Linked DNA regions of Homo sapiens: region 2 is linked to region 1. Evidence: fine-mapped expression QTL. Tissue or cell type: whole blood. Region 1 holds a variant in brackets; the other region holds the start of a gene. All regions are shown on one strand. Distances are from middle to middle.

Region 1 (8,107 bases):
TCTTAACGTCTCAAAATAAACTTGGAGCTCTGGGCCTGTAGAAGGTGACATTCTTTACTTATCACAGGTCAGGAACCCTCTACAGCAGCTGTGTAGACAAGGGTATGAGGCCATTTTTCCCAAGGGGCTTTTATTGGCTCTGCAAGTCGAGCTTGACTCCTTAAAGGGAAGCATACCCTTCAAGTTAAGCCTTGGTAAAACAACATTTCTCCAGTTGCATCCAGTTGCAAAAGAAAATGGATTCTTATTGCACTGATGTAAACAACTATATTGCCATAAGTTAAGAACACTTACAACTAGTTTCCAAATTCTGGAGAAGCCAGGGAGAGAGAGAGAGAGAGAGAGAGAGAGAGAGAGAGACAAATATGCTCCAAATTTTTTTCACAGGAGTGTGCCATACTCATTTATTAAAGACTGTAAATAGTTCAAAATAAGTTTCCTTGACTATGAAAAAACAAAACAAGGATCAGCAATATTCCAAGCAAAAGTTAAAAAGATTACCTCAGTTTTTGGTGAGTTCAGTTCATTTAGTTAACTCTTATTTTGCTTGATATTCATCAACATTTTAGTTCTTCATGAGTCCTGCACGTTTTTCCTGTATTGTAATGTTACAATCTCCAAAGTTATTAGAAACCTGTATTTGAGAGTACCTGTTAGAGTCCTATAGCTTGTTATAAGCCATTTTTTGAAAAGGATCAAAACAAGACAGCAATTGTCTGTGAATAACAAAATGTCCAGGGTAGTTACAGTTAGAAGCACAATTGACAAAGTAGTTTGATTATCTCTGTGGTTTACAATAACTTAACATAACAACCTTAATTATGATGGATAGCATATACTTTAGACATTAGAATTTTTGGAATCCCATACAGTTTTGAAACATATATTAGTAGTAGTCACCAAAATATAACCTAAAGAAGATTGAACACCATTTTGGCAATCTCATGTAAGTAAACGTGTTCTGTTTACCCCTCATTTGGATACTCCAGGGACTCTCTGCAGCATCCAAAAGCTAGGCATCAGGAAAGACAATTTTGAAACTGAAGTTTGATTTTGGGAAGCCTGTTAAATATGTTAGAGGTTTAAAACACTTGATGTTATGAAATAGAATTCCAAATTATTCCAGGTAAGTTATTTATTTTGCCAAAATGATGACTCAGAAATTTGAAAAACAAAAATCTTTTATAACCCTTTACAAATTTTCCTAAAGAGCAGATTAGTTCCTTAAGAGTACGTTTTTCTGCTTTTATTTCAATGCTTAGTTTACAGAAAAACCATATAATGCCTTTTTGAAGTTAGTCAATATGTTAACACAGAGAATTTATTTTGGAAGATTAATTTTTACAATCCTTCCATCACTTGTTTGAACTTTTAGCTTTTTTTGTTTGTTTGTTTTTTGAGATGGAGTCTCGCTCTGTTAAACTTTTAGCTTTATCTTATCTAATTCAGAACAATCCTTAGACCCTAGGCAAAAATTTACATTTCCACACCTTCTTATAATCTTTTATTAAAAACACATCATAACACACCTCACATGTAAATCTATTTCCAATAGTTTCAATTACATATTATAATGGTAACTCTTAGCAATTTTACCTTTAAAACCTGGTAAATTGTTTTAATTATTTGCTTGGTGCAGCCAAGGTTTGACTTCTTCCAGCATAATTAAGGGCATGGTTAGTTCCTTATGTCGCCAGGTTTTACCAAATGTGGAGCCATCAAGTTAGATCGTTCTCAAAAACCAAAAAAGGCAGGTTATAACCTTAAAACATTTAGCAAACCTAATATCTGACCTATATAATTTAGTTTACCTATTTACATTTTGATGACATCTGTATTTTACCAATAATCTTTAAGGCTGTTTTTTATTTCTTAAAGATTAAAGTCACGTGAACTGAAAGGCACTACAGCTTTTATTTTCCTTTTAAAAAACATTTGATCAAAGTGTTTATCTTCCTTTAGGCCAATTAATTAGAGCTTTTTTTTTTTTTTTTTTTGAGATGGAGTTTCACTCTGTTGCCCAGGCTGGAGTGCAGTGGCATGATCTCGACTCACTGCAACCTCCGCTTCCCATGTTCAAGCGATTGTCCCGCCTCAGCCTCCCTTGTAGCTGGAATTACAGGCATGTCCCACCACACCTAGCTAGTTTTTGTATTTTTAGTAGAGATGGGGTTTCACCATGCTGGCCAGGCTGGTCTTGAACTCCTGACCTCAGGTGATCCACCTGCCTCAGCTTCCCAAAGTGCTAGGATTACAGGCTTGAGCTGCTGCACCCAGCCAGTCTATAAAAAAAGCTCTATAAAAAAAAGAGCTTTTTTATAGACATCACACACACAACACATATATATGTACACAGATAGACAGAAGAAAACCCAATTGCCATAAGATCTTTCATTTGCCAGTCTCCTAATTGAATTAATGGTCTCCAGGTGGAGCCTTTAAGAGACAGGGCTAGGAAAACATTCAGCTTCTAAGGCCTAACAAACAGGCATAAATGAGGCAAAAACAGATTTTGAGAGGGATCTATTTGCTTTTAATTACTGGTGTTCCATGAGGAAAACAGAGGTCTCTTCCTTCTCATGTGTGCATTGAGAGTGGCAAGGAAAAATGGAGAAAAATAATTCAGTCGTTTTTTTTTCAACAAAACAAGGTCCTAGAAGAGAAAAACATAAAGACCTTTTACCTATGCCTACAACTTGGATATCTACTTTTAATTAAGCTGAGTGTTCTTTAAGAAAATCCTTTTAAATCCCCTATTACCTGACTTTAGCCATCCCAAGTGGCCAATATTTCTGGCTTTCAAACTTTACTAAAGGCTCAAAGAAAGTAAAATCCAAGGCATTTCGTGGAGGGGAAGAGAATCAACAAATAGCAAAGGTTGCACAGGTATCAAACCAAAAAGGACTCATTCCCTAAGCCAGGATCGAACCCCGGGCCACAAATGTAAAATGGCAGAGGCTAGAACAAAACATTGTCATGTGGTTACAGGTCTGGCTCTGAAGGACGTAAAACAAGATGGAGGCCTGCAGCAAAGTTTGCTACTTACCATACAGAAAGTTATGTAAAGCAGACCAGATTGGCTACAGCTTAAGACCAATATAAATCCTTTTTCATAGTTAAAACTTTACAGAGAATATAAACAGTGATAGTTGGGGTCTTGGCCTTGTAAAACATTTTCTAAAAAGGAAAAAAAAAATCCTCTCACGTAAAAGTTAACTGCTAATAGGTAGAGAAAAAACAGTTCATAGTGTAAGGGTAACCCTGGGAGAAGAACCTCTTATTCTTATACAAATGGGTTCCTTTCCCCCTGGCTCAGACCAATGGTAGTCTGGCCAGTCAACCATGCAGGGCCCAGGCCCCTGAGGCCGCCTTGGGGCCTGGACAGTGGCTGTGGCTCATTCCCGCCCTGTGTGGTCGTTGGACACTGCACTCATGTGGCAGACATGGCCATGCACCCAAACCAGGAGGTAAGGGGAGTGGGGAGCTGCCATTCGCCCAACCATCCTGAGCCTGAGCCTGTGGCCATTTAAGTGGGTGTGGACCACCTCCAGTATTATAAAAGAAAAGATAGGTGCTGTTACTGTCCTGAAAAAAAAAGAAGAGGCATGCCATAGGACCAAAAGGCTCAGAAGCGAAAGTGAGAGGTTTTGGGTTCACATTTTACTCACCCTTCCTTTGGCCTCACATTGGGCAGCAAAAATGCTGCAGAACTCTCTCCTTAGTTCAGCTAAAACCAGGCTCTTGTCACACAACTAGGAAAGATTAGGCTTGTGGACACCTAGAAGGATGAGGAAAGTGGAATTTATTGGGTAAAAAGGAAAAATAACGCTCAGCAAAGCAAGAGAGAGTCCTGCTAGCAGATAAAGTACAGTGCATACTTCTCATTTTGTCACAGAATAGTAAAAAGGTATACATGCAAAGGCCTGGATTTAATGCAGGATTTAATTTGTGTGACCTTGTTAAGGGCATCCTTAAGTGAACTGATTCTTAACAGATTTTTATATGTTTTTTT[A/T]AAAAAAATTATGAATAGTAATGAAGAACAGTGTCTACCAGTCGGATTTGGTGCTGTTGCCTTTATTTGTGCTAAGAGACCAGCAGTCTTATACTGATCTTTGCTTTTGTATCACAAGTACAAACATAAGCACAAGGAAAATTGCAAAGAACATCTTTTTTTTTTTTTTTTTTCTGAGACAGGGTCTTGCCCTCTCACCCAGGCGGGAGTGCTGTGGCAGGATCTCAGCTCACTGCAACTACCTCCTGGGCTCAAGCCATCCTCTTACCTCAGCCTCCCCAATAGCTGGGACTGCAGGTGTATGCCACCATGCCCAGCTTATTTTTTTTTGTGTTTTATAGAAACAGGGTTTTGCCATGCTGCGCAGGCTGGTCTGGATCCGGACTCAAGCAATCTGCCTGCCTTGGCCTCCCAAAGAGCTGGGATTACAGGCGTGAGCCACCACACCAGGCTGCAAATAACATCTTACTATTTTTAAGAACATAGCTTTGTCCTCCCAGATTCCTGAAAAGATCTTAGAGAACTCCCAGTGGTCCTCAGCCACATTTTGGGGATCACACTATGATAACCACTATTCTAAATTCTGTAACTCTTTGCTTTAAAGCTAGTCATTAAATCTGCTTGTATGAAAATGTGTGTATGGGTTTAATAGTTAATTTGTTTTATTATTTTGTATGTATTCCTTGAACTTATAAAGTTTACTTATTGTGTAAATAATGATAGTTTTCCATGCAGTGTTAATTTATGAAATTAGTTTGAGAAAAAAGTATTTGTAGATTGGAAAAATTTCAGGTTTCAGTCAATCATACAGACACTTTTAGCTTCATTTGAAGTAGGAGTCTCCTCTTAGTGGAATTGACAGGGAACTTTGCCATGGTAAGTTACTTATTTTATTATACAAGCATTGATTTCATTAGTCTTTTGAAGATCTCATTGCTTTTGTACTCCGCTATTTTATATTAAGTATATGAAATAGAATATTCAGTTTTGCTTGCTGCTTTTCTGTTTTCATGTTAATTGCATTTATTGGGAATTAAAGTAGTTATATGTGTAAAGATTTTTCATAATTTACAGGCTGACCATAAATTATCTTTTTGTATGATCATCTAATTTGCTCTTTTATCTTCATAGTATGCCTATTAACTTTCTAGCATTTATTTGAGGACTTTTTTTTTTTTTTAACTTTTTCCAATGACCAAATAAGATATGCTTCTGTTTTTGCTGTGGTGAAATTTAATTATCTTTGAGTTTGCTAAATGTGATCATTTTTCTTTAGAACCAAGCTAGGTAAAATTAACATAGTTGATAAATATTTCTGTTTGATTTGTGTCGTATTTATATCTACCTCTAGGTAAAAGAGCTTATCTTGAAATTGTTTTATTTGAAGATTGGCCTTGTAGACTATCTGCATCCAATATGTATTTTCAAAACATTTATCTCTGCATACATAGCACATTTCTATTTTTTATATTAATATTATTTATAATTTAATAATTAAACTGGCATATGATGATGACCCAAGTGTTGCATATTTACCAACAATTATAAGGCAACCTAGTTGCTTGTAGAGTTTTTGAGTAAAGGATTTACTCTAGGGTTTTGAATAAATTTAAGAAATGTCAAGAATAAATACAGGAAAATAATTGAGAAAATGAGTTTACTATAAAAACTGGAAGCCAAATAAGTAAAACAAAACAGTGTTGCTGACTACTTCCTATTTGTTTTATATGCCCTGTTCCTGATTATTGTTAATTATTCTCATCTTTCAGGCTTTGAAGTCTTATCTGTTTTTCCGTTAAACAGATCACTTTTTTTTTTTTCCTTTTTTTTTTGAGACAGAGTCTCACTCTGCCTCCAGGCTGGAGTGCAGTGGCACAATCTCAGCTTACTACAACCTCCGCTTCCTGGGTTAAAGTGGTTCTCCTGCCTGAGCCTCCCGAGTAGCTGGGACTACAGGTGTGCGCCACCATGCCCAGCTAACTTGTTTTTGTTTTGTTTTGTTTTGTTTTGTTTTGAGACAGAGTCTCTCGCTCTGTCACCTAGGCTGGAGTAGTGGCTTGATCTCGGCTCACTGCAGGCTCCGCCTCCCAGGTTCACAGCATTCTCCTGCCTGAGCCTCCCAAGTAGCTGGGACTACAGGCACCCACCACCACATTTGGCTAATTTTTTTTTATTTTTAGTAGAGACGGGGTTTCACCGTGTTAGCCAGGATGGTCTTGATCTCCTGACCTCGTGATCTGCCCACCTCGGCCTCCCAAAGTGCTGGGATTACAGGTGTGAGCCACCGCACCTGGCCACTAATTTTTATATTTTGAGAAGGGGTTTCACTGTTTTGGCCAGGATAGTCTCAATCTCTTGACCTTGTAATCCGCCCACCTCAGCCACCGAAACTGCTGGGAGTACAGGCATGAGCCACCATGCCCAGCCAGATCACTTTTGAAGAGATCTGTAGGCTAAAATCTAGAATTACAATCTTAGTATTATTAAAAAATATGTTGGTACCTACAAAGGAATATATTTCATTAATATGTAAATTAGAAATATAGCAAAACTTTTATGGAACTGGCTTCTGTGTTAGTTATTTAATAATAGAATATTAAAAGTAGTATACAGGTTACTCATGTGTTCCTAACCAATTTTATCACCTGCTTCCTATCCAAATATAATTATTTTTCTGATATTTATGTTTATCAATATGTTGACTTTTAAAAAAGTTTTACCACATATATACACACCCCTATATTATTTGTTTTGGCTGTATTTGAACTTTATAAAAATATTATAGTAAGATTTCTGAGATTTGTTTTTTCAGAGATTAATTGCTGATGCCTGTGGCTGTAGTTGTCACTGACGTATAATATTCCATTGTGTTACTATACTACAATTTTTCAGTTGAATCTGTATACATTACATGCACTTCTAGGGTTTTTGTTGTTCTTGCTATTAAGGGCATCTTTGTACATGTCTCCAGATCCACAGGTGCAAGAGTTTCCCTAGATATGTACCTAGGAGAGGAATTAAAGGGCATTGGGTATGCAAAATTTGTATTTTGAGTTAATAACAAATTGTTTTCCAGTGTACTTTTATCAATTTAAAACTCCCACTACATGAGTGTATGAGTTCCAGGTTCTCAGCATTCTTGCTGATAATTAGTATTGTTGGACTTTAAAATGATTGTCACCTTAGTGGTAATAAATAGAGCATAGTTGCGACTTTAATTTTTATTTTCCTGCCACTATAAAACAGCACCTTTTCTTATATTTATTGTCCTTTATGTTTTGTCTTTTGTGAAATGGCATTTCAAGTCTTTCCCCATTTTTTTGTGTTGGTCTTAGAGAAATAGATATATTCTGGATACTAATCATTTGTTTTTGGATACTGCAAATATCTTCTTACAGTTTGTATCTTGTCTCACCTTTTTAATGATTAATTTTGGTGAACAGAAGTTCTTAATTTCTATGTCATGCAATTTATAATTTTTATATTAGTACTTCTTGTGTTTCATTTAAGAAATTCTGCCCTTTCTCAAGATTGTAAACATATTATCCAGTAACATATTACATGGTCAGTTTTTGTAAATGTTCTATGCATGCTTCAGAAGAATGCCTATTTTTAAATTAGGTACAGTGTTTTCTATATATTCATTATATCAAATTTTATATTTGGCCATATATAAACTAGTGTTACTTGCATAACACTAGTTGCATAACTCAGTTGACTTGCAGATTTATCTCCCATTGTGTTAATAGGTTTGTCCACTTCTCTGGCAATTTCTGCCTGAAAAATGTTAAGGCTCTCTTATTACATACAGATGGGTTATGTTAAATTGAACCTTTTCTCATATACAGTGGCTGTTTTCATCCATATTAATGTTTTTCATCTTGAATCTATTTTTTCTCTTTTAGTTAGTATTCTTTCATGTTATTCTAATTTTTTAGTTTGTCTCTGTTTTAAGTATTTCTTTGGCAGATAGCATACCTTTATTTTAAATCTATTATGTCACTATTTCTATTAGTGATTGTTTCCATTTACATTTATTGCTAATACTGATATAATTTCATTCTGTTTTACTTATTATACTTCTGTTTTTCTCAG
Region 2 (8,107 bases), 110 kb before region 1:
CCAAACTTATCCAGTTATTAGGAACCCACTCCTGCAATAACTAACAGTACTCCTCATGACCTAATCATGAGACCTCTTGAAGGTCTCAACTCTCAACACTGTTACAATGGCAATTACATTTCAACCTGAGTTTTGGTGGGTACATTCAAATCACAGCAGTCCTCAGCATAAGCAACTTGGAAGGAAACTCTCACTCTGTCGCCCAGGCTGGAGTGCAATGGCACGATCTCGACTCACTGCAACCTCCACCTCCTGGGTTCAAGCCATTCTCCTGTCTCAGCCTCCCAAGTAGCTGGGATTGCAGGCATGCGCCACCATGCCTGGCTAATTTTTTACATTTTTAGTAGAGATGGGGTTTTACCATGTTGGCCAGGTTGTTCTCAAACTCCTGACCTTGAGTGATCCACCCACCTCAGCCTCCCAAAGGGCTGGGATTACAGGCGTGAGCCATTGCACCTGGCCTGGAAGGAAACTCTTTCACATTCTCTACATTATCAATCACAGGACAGTGTTGTGTTTTTTGTTTTTTTTTTTTTTTGAGACGGAGTTTCACTCTGTTGCCCAGGCTGGAGTGCAGAGGTGCGATCTCAGCTCACTGCAGCCTCTGCCTCCTGGGTTTCTTGGGTTCAAGCAATTCTCCTACCTCAGCCTTCCAAGTAGCTGGGACTACAGGAGCATGCCACCACTCCCAGCTAATTTTTGTATTTTTTTAGTAGAGTCGGGGTTTCACCATGCCAGCCAGGCTGGTCTCAAACTCCTGACCTCGAGTGACCCACCTACCTCAACCTCTCAAAGTACTGGGATTACAGGCATGAGCCACCGCACCCGGCCAATCACAGTGTTTTCAAAGTGTTAGTCACTTGCCTCAGATTCACCTGGGTGCTGGTACAAATGCATATTCATAAGGTGGAGCTCAGAAATCTGGTTTTTAACAAGCTCTCTAGGTGATTCTTCTGGGCACCGATGTTTGAGAATCATGGGGGAAGCAATATGTTTAGCAAATAATAGGTCCATAATAACTATTTGATGATGATATACTATGCCCTTAGTAACTTCCAAATGTCTCTCATGTGCTGAACTTTCTTCTGTGCCTTAACCCTGTGTTTTCGACCACTGCCTATTCTTTGAGTTTTTTTCATCCCACACTCATTCAAAACATTCAAAACTAAACCATCTACTGGACACCTCCAATCTTGTCACTACGTTATTGTTACCCAGAAGTCATGTTTGGAGTCATTTCTGTTTGTGTTTCATCATTTTTACTTAATCAACATATTGACCATTGTGTCAAGCACTGATATAGACAGTGATGAATATGACAGATATGGGTCATACTCTCAAGGATGGTAAAGACAGTTTTACAGAGAGTAATTAAACTTTATACCATCAGTTCCTTAGTGTTTTTCTCAGAATATTCCCTTTCTTTGTCACCATCCTAATCTAGAATCTTATCATTTACGCTCGAACTGCTTTAATTTTTCCTAGTCTTTGTTCCTAATTTCCCACCTCTTCTGAAAGATTAATCTCCTAAAAAATTAATCTTTAAAACATTATAAATGTTTTTACCCTACTTAATGCCTAATTTCCGTGAAAGCTGTCGTAATCAAAATGGAATTATATGGGCTCGGTGGTACACACCTACAGTTCCAGCTACTTGGGAGGCTGAGGCAGCAGGATTGCTTGAGCCCAGGAATTTGGGGGCTGTACTGTGCTATAGACTTGCCTGTGAACAGTCACTGCATCCCAGCCCCATCTCTTAAACAAAAGGGGGTGGGGGGCCCCATCTCTTAAACAAAAGGGGGTGGGGGGCCCCATCTCTTAAACAAAAGGGGGTGGGGGGGCCCCATCTCTTAAACAAAAGGGGGTGGGGGGCCCCATCTCTTAAACAAAAGGGGGTGGGGGGCCCCATCTCTTAAACAAAAGGGGGTGGGAGGTAGTCACTAATATATTTTTTAAAACACTGAAAAATAGATTCAGAGGTCATGAAGAGAAGGGGTCTCATGCTTGCACACCTGATGACAAAAACTATCACAAAAACCTGCAAAAGCCACAATCTTTTTTTTTTTTTTGAGATGGAGTCTTGCTCTGTTGCCCAGGCTGGAGCACAGTGGCACGACCTTGGCTCACTCCAACCTCCGCTTTCTGGGTTCAAGCGATTCTCCTGCCTCACACTCTCGAGTAGTTGGGATTACAGGTGCATGCCACCACACCCGGTTAATTTTTGTATTTTTAGTAGGGACAGGGTTTCGTCATGTTGGCCAGGCTGGTCTCGAACTCCTGACCTCAGGTGATCCACTCGCCTTGGCCTCCCAAAGTGTTGGAATTATGGGCCTCAGCCACCGCACCTGGCCAAAAGCCACAATCTTACACAAAAAATACTTCCGCAAAAACATCTGCCCAGCAACTTCCTGTCCAGTTTCCGACTGGTGTCACCTTGTTATTGATCTTCGTAGCCAAGGATAACGGTTTAAAAACAATTATGTAATTCTCATTTTTTTTTAAATTTTAAAAACCTTTGCCTTCCTTTACCTCCTTGAATACGCACGTAGTTTACTAAGTCATGAGTATTTTCACACTTTATTCCCAAATAAATATATAAGAATCATAGAATGATAGAATTGAAAAGGATAAAATCACACAGTTGTTTCTAACTCCCACCCCTTAGAATGCGGCAAATGAAAAAAATTTTTTTTTTTGAGACAGGGTCTCTGTCTCACAGGCTGGAGTGTAGGGATCTCCGCTCCCTACAGCCTCAACCTCCCCAGCTCAAGCAATCCTCCCATGTCAGCCTCCCGAGTAGCTGGGACTACAGGCCTGCTGCCACCATGCCCAGCTAATTTTTTGTACTTTTTGTAGAGACGGGGTTTCGCTATCTTGCCCAGGCTGGTCTCTAACCTCAGGTTCAGCCTGATCCTCACCTCCAGGCTCAGGTGATCCGACCCCCTAGGCCTCCCAAGGTGCTGCGATGACAGGCATGAGCCACCGCGCCCGCCTATAATCAATTTTCAATATTCTAAAAAAGCCTACCAGAAATTGTATATTTTCTGGTGGTATTAAATGCTAGGTTTCCTTGTTTTGTGCTAGAATTATATCAGATCCACAATAAACCTAGGTTCCGACTGAGCTGGGTCTGATTGAGCAAAATCTGTTTTCCCATTATTGTTATGTTCAATTTGGCAAACAGCTTTTCAAAATATAGGAGTGAAGTCGTGGTCGAACTAATAAAATTGGTAACACTTGCTACAATGTTTGCAATTCGCAGAAAACTTCACTGACTTCATCTTAACTTATTCCTCACAAAGCTGTGGAATCACCATCAGTAGAGCAGGAGTCGTTGGCTCAATGCAGTGCTGTCTGCAACCGCTCGGAGCTTCTAGGTTCTTTCCGTGGGTCTCCAGCTTATGAGCACCTACATTCCGCGATTCGGAAGCACCTGCCTACCCCTCAGAAGAGAGAGACAGCTCCTTCTTCCCGTTCCGGAATGTGGTGCGTTCGCACGCATGCGTGACACGGCTACTCCGCGCTTGCGCCGATATTCTCCGCTTGGGGCGGATACCCTGGGTGACCCGTGAGCGTCCGCGCCCGGCGCGCGCCTGCGCAGTCGCTTTTCGAGAGTTTCCGCCCGCTACGTTCCCGTCTTTCAAACCACCCCACCACCTATACCATTCATTCCAGTCTCCTCAATTCTTTCACTGTATTAAGACGGCCTGCCCTCTGGCACGTTTTCTGGAACGAAAGCGGCTTGGGACAGACAGACTCCCTTCGCCAGGGAGCCCCGACCCCGAGGGCGCGCCCTGAGCGTCTGAGCGCAGCCCCGCTGCGTCCCCAGTTGTATCCCCCGCCACGCCCGCCTCTTCCGCCGCTCGCGCGCGCGCGCACGGCCGGCCACGGCGCGCCGGGGTTGGCTGCTACAGGGACCGCGGTGGCGGCGGCGGCCTCGACAGCGGTAGTGCCTTCTACTCCGCTTTTTTAGTTTCCTCCGCCCCCTCCCGTGGGACGCTGTTGTGTGGCTGCCTTAAAAAAAAACGCAACTTTATTGTTCCTCAGCCCCACCTCCGGCTCGGCGGGCGTCCTCAGGATGCACTGAGGCTGAGGGGAGGGGAGGCGGCGGAGGGTCGAGGTCGCGGTCCCTCTCCTCCGAGCGCCCGGCTGGAGGGGAGGGAGTCACGATGTCTGGTAGCCGCCAGGCCGGGTCGGGCTCCGCTGGGACAAGCCCCGGGTCCTCGGCGGCCTCCTCGGTGACTTCCGCCTCCTCGTCTTTATCCTCTTCCCCGTCGCCGCCTTCCGTGGCGGTTTCGGCGGCAGCGCTGGTGTCCGGCGGGGTGGCCCAGGCCGCCGGCTCGGGCGGCCTCGGGGGCCCGGTGCGGCCTGTGTTGGTGGCGCCCGCCGTATCGGGTAGCGGCGGCGGGGCGGTGTCCACGGGCCTGTCCCGGCACAGCTGCGCGGCCAGGCCCAGCGCCGGCGTAGGAGGCAGCAGCTCCAGCCTAGGCAGCGGCAGCAGGAAGCGACCTCTCCTCGCCCCCCTCTGCAACGGGCTCATCAACTCCTACGAGGACAAAAGCAACGACTTCGTATGGTGGGTTTGAAGAGCACTCCCTCCTTGTCCCTAAATTATGAGTTTCTGCCGCTTAGGCTTGGGGGCGGGGGGTCTGGTGTGGGGGTGGCTTGTTGGAGAGCTTGGGATACTGGTGCTGTGGTGGTGTCTGCAGAGGGAATCGAGCGTTTGCAGGCATTCGAGCTCCTGGTTGGTGGGGTGAAGGAATGTTGGAGTAGCGAGGCAGGGTGGGGATAATAAAGAGGTAGGTAAGTGTTGCTGAGGAGGAAGTGAAGGGAGTTTAACGAATGACGAGGGAAGAGGTGGAAGGTCAAATAAATGGTTTTGGATAACAAAGTTGGCAGAGAGGTTGAGTCTTAAAATTTTTGCCTCTCTGATGAATTGAACACTCAGTCAATCAGGAGTCCTTGTTGAGATGAATGAAATTTGCAAATGGAGAGGACTAAGCTTCCTCGGATGCAGAGGGGTGGAGTTGGTCAAAATTTATTTGAAGTATGGTAGATGATGCTGTAAACATAAGCATGGATGTCTTATAAAGACATGCTTTTTATAATAATGTAAGTACCTATCGTATGTATGTGTAAATATCTTCTTCCATTTCAAAGGATGGGCCACTTAGGAATCGGCTGTTGAGACGACTGTAGTCAAAGTCTGTTAACAGATTTTTCACTTCTCCACCAAGTGTCTTGAAAAGAGAGAACCACGTTTGTTAAATAACATCCCTGTGTCAGATGTAACTGTACTATACTGGATAACAGAGTATACTGGAACTTCTGACTTGAGAAATGCTAGGTATAGACATTTTGTCGTCATAGTTGGCATCTTGAATGATACAGAGTAACATTTAGTCATGACATTTGGGATAGAGAGGTTAGTCATATGAAGTGAAAGGTGGTGTTGATTGTCTTGCTTGAGAGTGTTTTGGAATTTTTATTGGATTTTAGATATTGGTAGGATTATGAGAAGTAATTGCTGTTAGCTAGCTGCTTAAGAAGTGGTAGTGTTTCGTACTTTCCTTTTTGAGGAAATTGTTGATCAAATATTAGGCATGTAGGAAGTTGGCTGCTTGCACAGTCATTATGAGGGAAGTTGATTCAGATCAGGGTTGAAGATGGTCTGAGTTGGTGTTATTAAATAAGATAGAGCTAGAAGTTGGAACTGTTAGGAAAGTTATTGATTAGACTTACGGTTTCTAGTTCCTGCAGAAAAATGATGTCTTTATTCACCTTTCTGCTTTTTTGTACGTTATTCTTTATCAGAATTAATCTGTTTTTCATTGAACATTTGGGCTGTAATATGATTGTTATTTATAAATAAGCAGTTTATGGTTGGGGCTGAGAAGTGTTTGCACTTCTACACAGTCGATAGTGCGAGTAGCTAATAAGCTAATAAAACAAAGTGGGGTGTGCATAATTTAGTTGTCTTTTTAGCCACTGTTTGCATTTTAATTTTTAGTATACTTAACGAACACAAACATGTTAGCCTCCGTGTAAGTACACTAAAATAAAGTAAAAGATGTGAGGAATAAGGAATCGATCATTGTCATTCAAGAGATACTTGTATGACATTCACTGTCGGCCAGGCACCATATGAAGTTCAGTGCACTGCAGGCTATGCTATAGGGAATTGGGAACTCTTTTTTTAAAAGAGTAAAAATTTGTATTTGAGACGGAGTCTTGCTCTGTCACTCAGGCTGGAGTGCAGTGGCACCGTCTTGGCTCACTGCCACCCCCGCCTCCCGGGTTCAAGCAATTCTCCAGCCTCAGCCTCCCGAGTAGTAGCTGGGATTACAGGCACCTGCCACCACACCTGCCTAATTTTTTGTATTTTTAATGGAGACGGGGTTTCACCATGTTGGCCAGGCAGGTCTTGAACTCCTGACCTCAGGTGATCTGCTCGCCTCGGCCTCCCAAGGTGCTGGGAGGGATTACAGGTGTGAGCCACCGTGGTCCTGAGTATTTCACTTTCTAAGAATCTCATTAGTTAATTATTTCTTTTTCTGGTGAGGTTTAATATTCAGAAGAATTAATTAATGAGAATCTGATTTAAAACTCAAGCCAGGTTTGATTTTGTCCAGACTCTTGGGGTAGGATGATATGGATTAGGCAAGGCCCAAGGAATCCTTTTTTTCTTTTTTTTTCCCCCCGTTTGGCTGTGGGTCTTGTCTTGTATGCCCCAAGGTCAAACTGTGAACCAATTCAAATTATTCTATGCTTTTATATTTAAACGAAGCCCAAGTTCAAATAATGATAATTTCTTATTCATTTATGGGACATTTTAAAGATATGCTTATGCTTCACGTTTTATTTTATCCTTAGAACAATTCTGTGATGTTATATATAACTTATTTTTAATACAATACTAATTATTTTCTCATTGAGGCACAGAGAAGTAATTTTGTTTGTCGTTGGACAGGTAAGGACAAAATGAGAACTCAGATTTCCCAGTTCTCAACTTTGTGTTTTCTTTGTGTGCAATTAGAGAGTTTCAGATCTGTAAGTTCGAGTACATGTATTTAGCCCAGTGGTTCTTAAACGGCACAGATTGGAGGAGAAGCAGCTGTTTCATAATCATATGAGATAAATGTTTTATCCCTCACCACTCCCTTTTCTTACCTGCCCACATCCCAAGAAGACGTACCTGAATTGGAGGCTGGGGTGGGTGGTGTAATTTGCATATGCTCCCCTGGTGATAGGGACCTGTCCTTCTCCCCTCCTTGAGAACTGTTGATTTAAATAGTCACGTACCTAATTTCAGTAATAAACATTGGCCTCTCCTGACTTATATTTGAAAGTAAGTTTATATTTAATTGAAGAATTCATAAACATTTTAGGGGTTTAGGTTGCATTTTTATATTTTATTTTACACAAAAGATTGAAGGTATTATCAAGTTGAATAATTTTAACAGTGTTTTATTGATGGAGAATCTAATACAGGACAGTAGTATTTAGCTTGACATTGGATACATTTTCAACATTCAGAGGAAGTCTTTGTTATTTTGTTTTTTGCAAAATTTTCTTACGGTTCATTTAACTAGACTGTGAGTCTGGTCTGTATTTGAAAGATGACTTCTGTTTTTTATACGGACTCCTTTTTTAAACAATTCTATAACTACTGCCTTTGTATTAGCTTTTCCAGCTATCTCAAATGAAGTTTTCTACCTCTGCAAGTCCCAGCCATTCTTGCAGCAGAAGTATACGTTTGCATGTAGATAGTAAGCTCTTTATGAGAAGGTTGACTTTTTTTCTTTTTTTTTGAGACGGAGTCTCGCTCTGCTGCCCAGGCTGGAGTGCAGTGGTGCGATCTCGGCTCACTGCAAGCTCCGCCTCCCGGGTTCACGCCATTCTCCTGCCTCAGCCTCCCGAGTAGCTGGGACTACAGGCGCCGGCCACCCCGCCCGGCTAATTTTTTGTATTTTTAGTAGAGGCGGGGTTTCACTGTGTTAGCCAGGATGGTCTCGATCTCCTGACCTCATGATCCGCCCGCCTCTGCCTCCCAAAGTGCTGGGATTACAGGCGTGAGCCACCGCGCCCGGCCGAGAAGGTTGACTTT

The links. PIP is the estimated chance that this variant, and not a neighbour inherited with it, causes the effect.
Region 2: COP1 starts here. The variant in region 1 is fine-mapped to the expression of COP1 in whole blood (TOPMed, PIP above 0.99).

What each region holds. Positions count from the first base shown.
Region 1 is chr1:176,091,759-176,099,865 of GRCh38, reverse strand. All of the region lies in intron 9 of COP1 (COP1 E3 ubiquitin ligase), which reads left to right. Among named protein-coding and RNA genes, the nearest start is that of COP1, 110 kb to the left of the region's middle. RefSeq lists an enhancer at 2,934-3,433. The variant A/T (reference allele first, on the strand shown) is at 4,013.
Region 2 is chr1:176,203,041-176,211,147 of GRCh38, reverse strand. It overlaps COP1 (COP1 E3 ubiquitin ligase), which reads left to right and starts at 3,862. Exons shown (of 20, transcript NM_022457.7): 1 at 3,862-4,576. The coding sequence starts at 4,170. It overlaps COP1-DT (COP1 divergent transcript), which reads right to left and starts at 3,483. Exons shown (of 5, transcript NR_185981.1): 1 at 3,277-3,483. RefSeq lists an enhancer at 3,255-3,324 and silencers at 3,825-4,034, 4,065-4,424.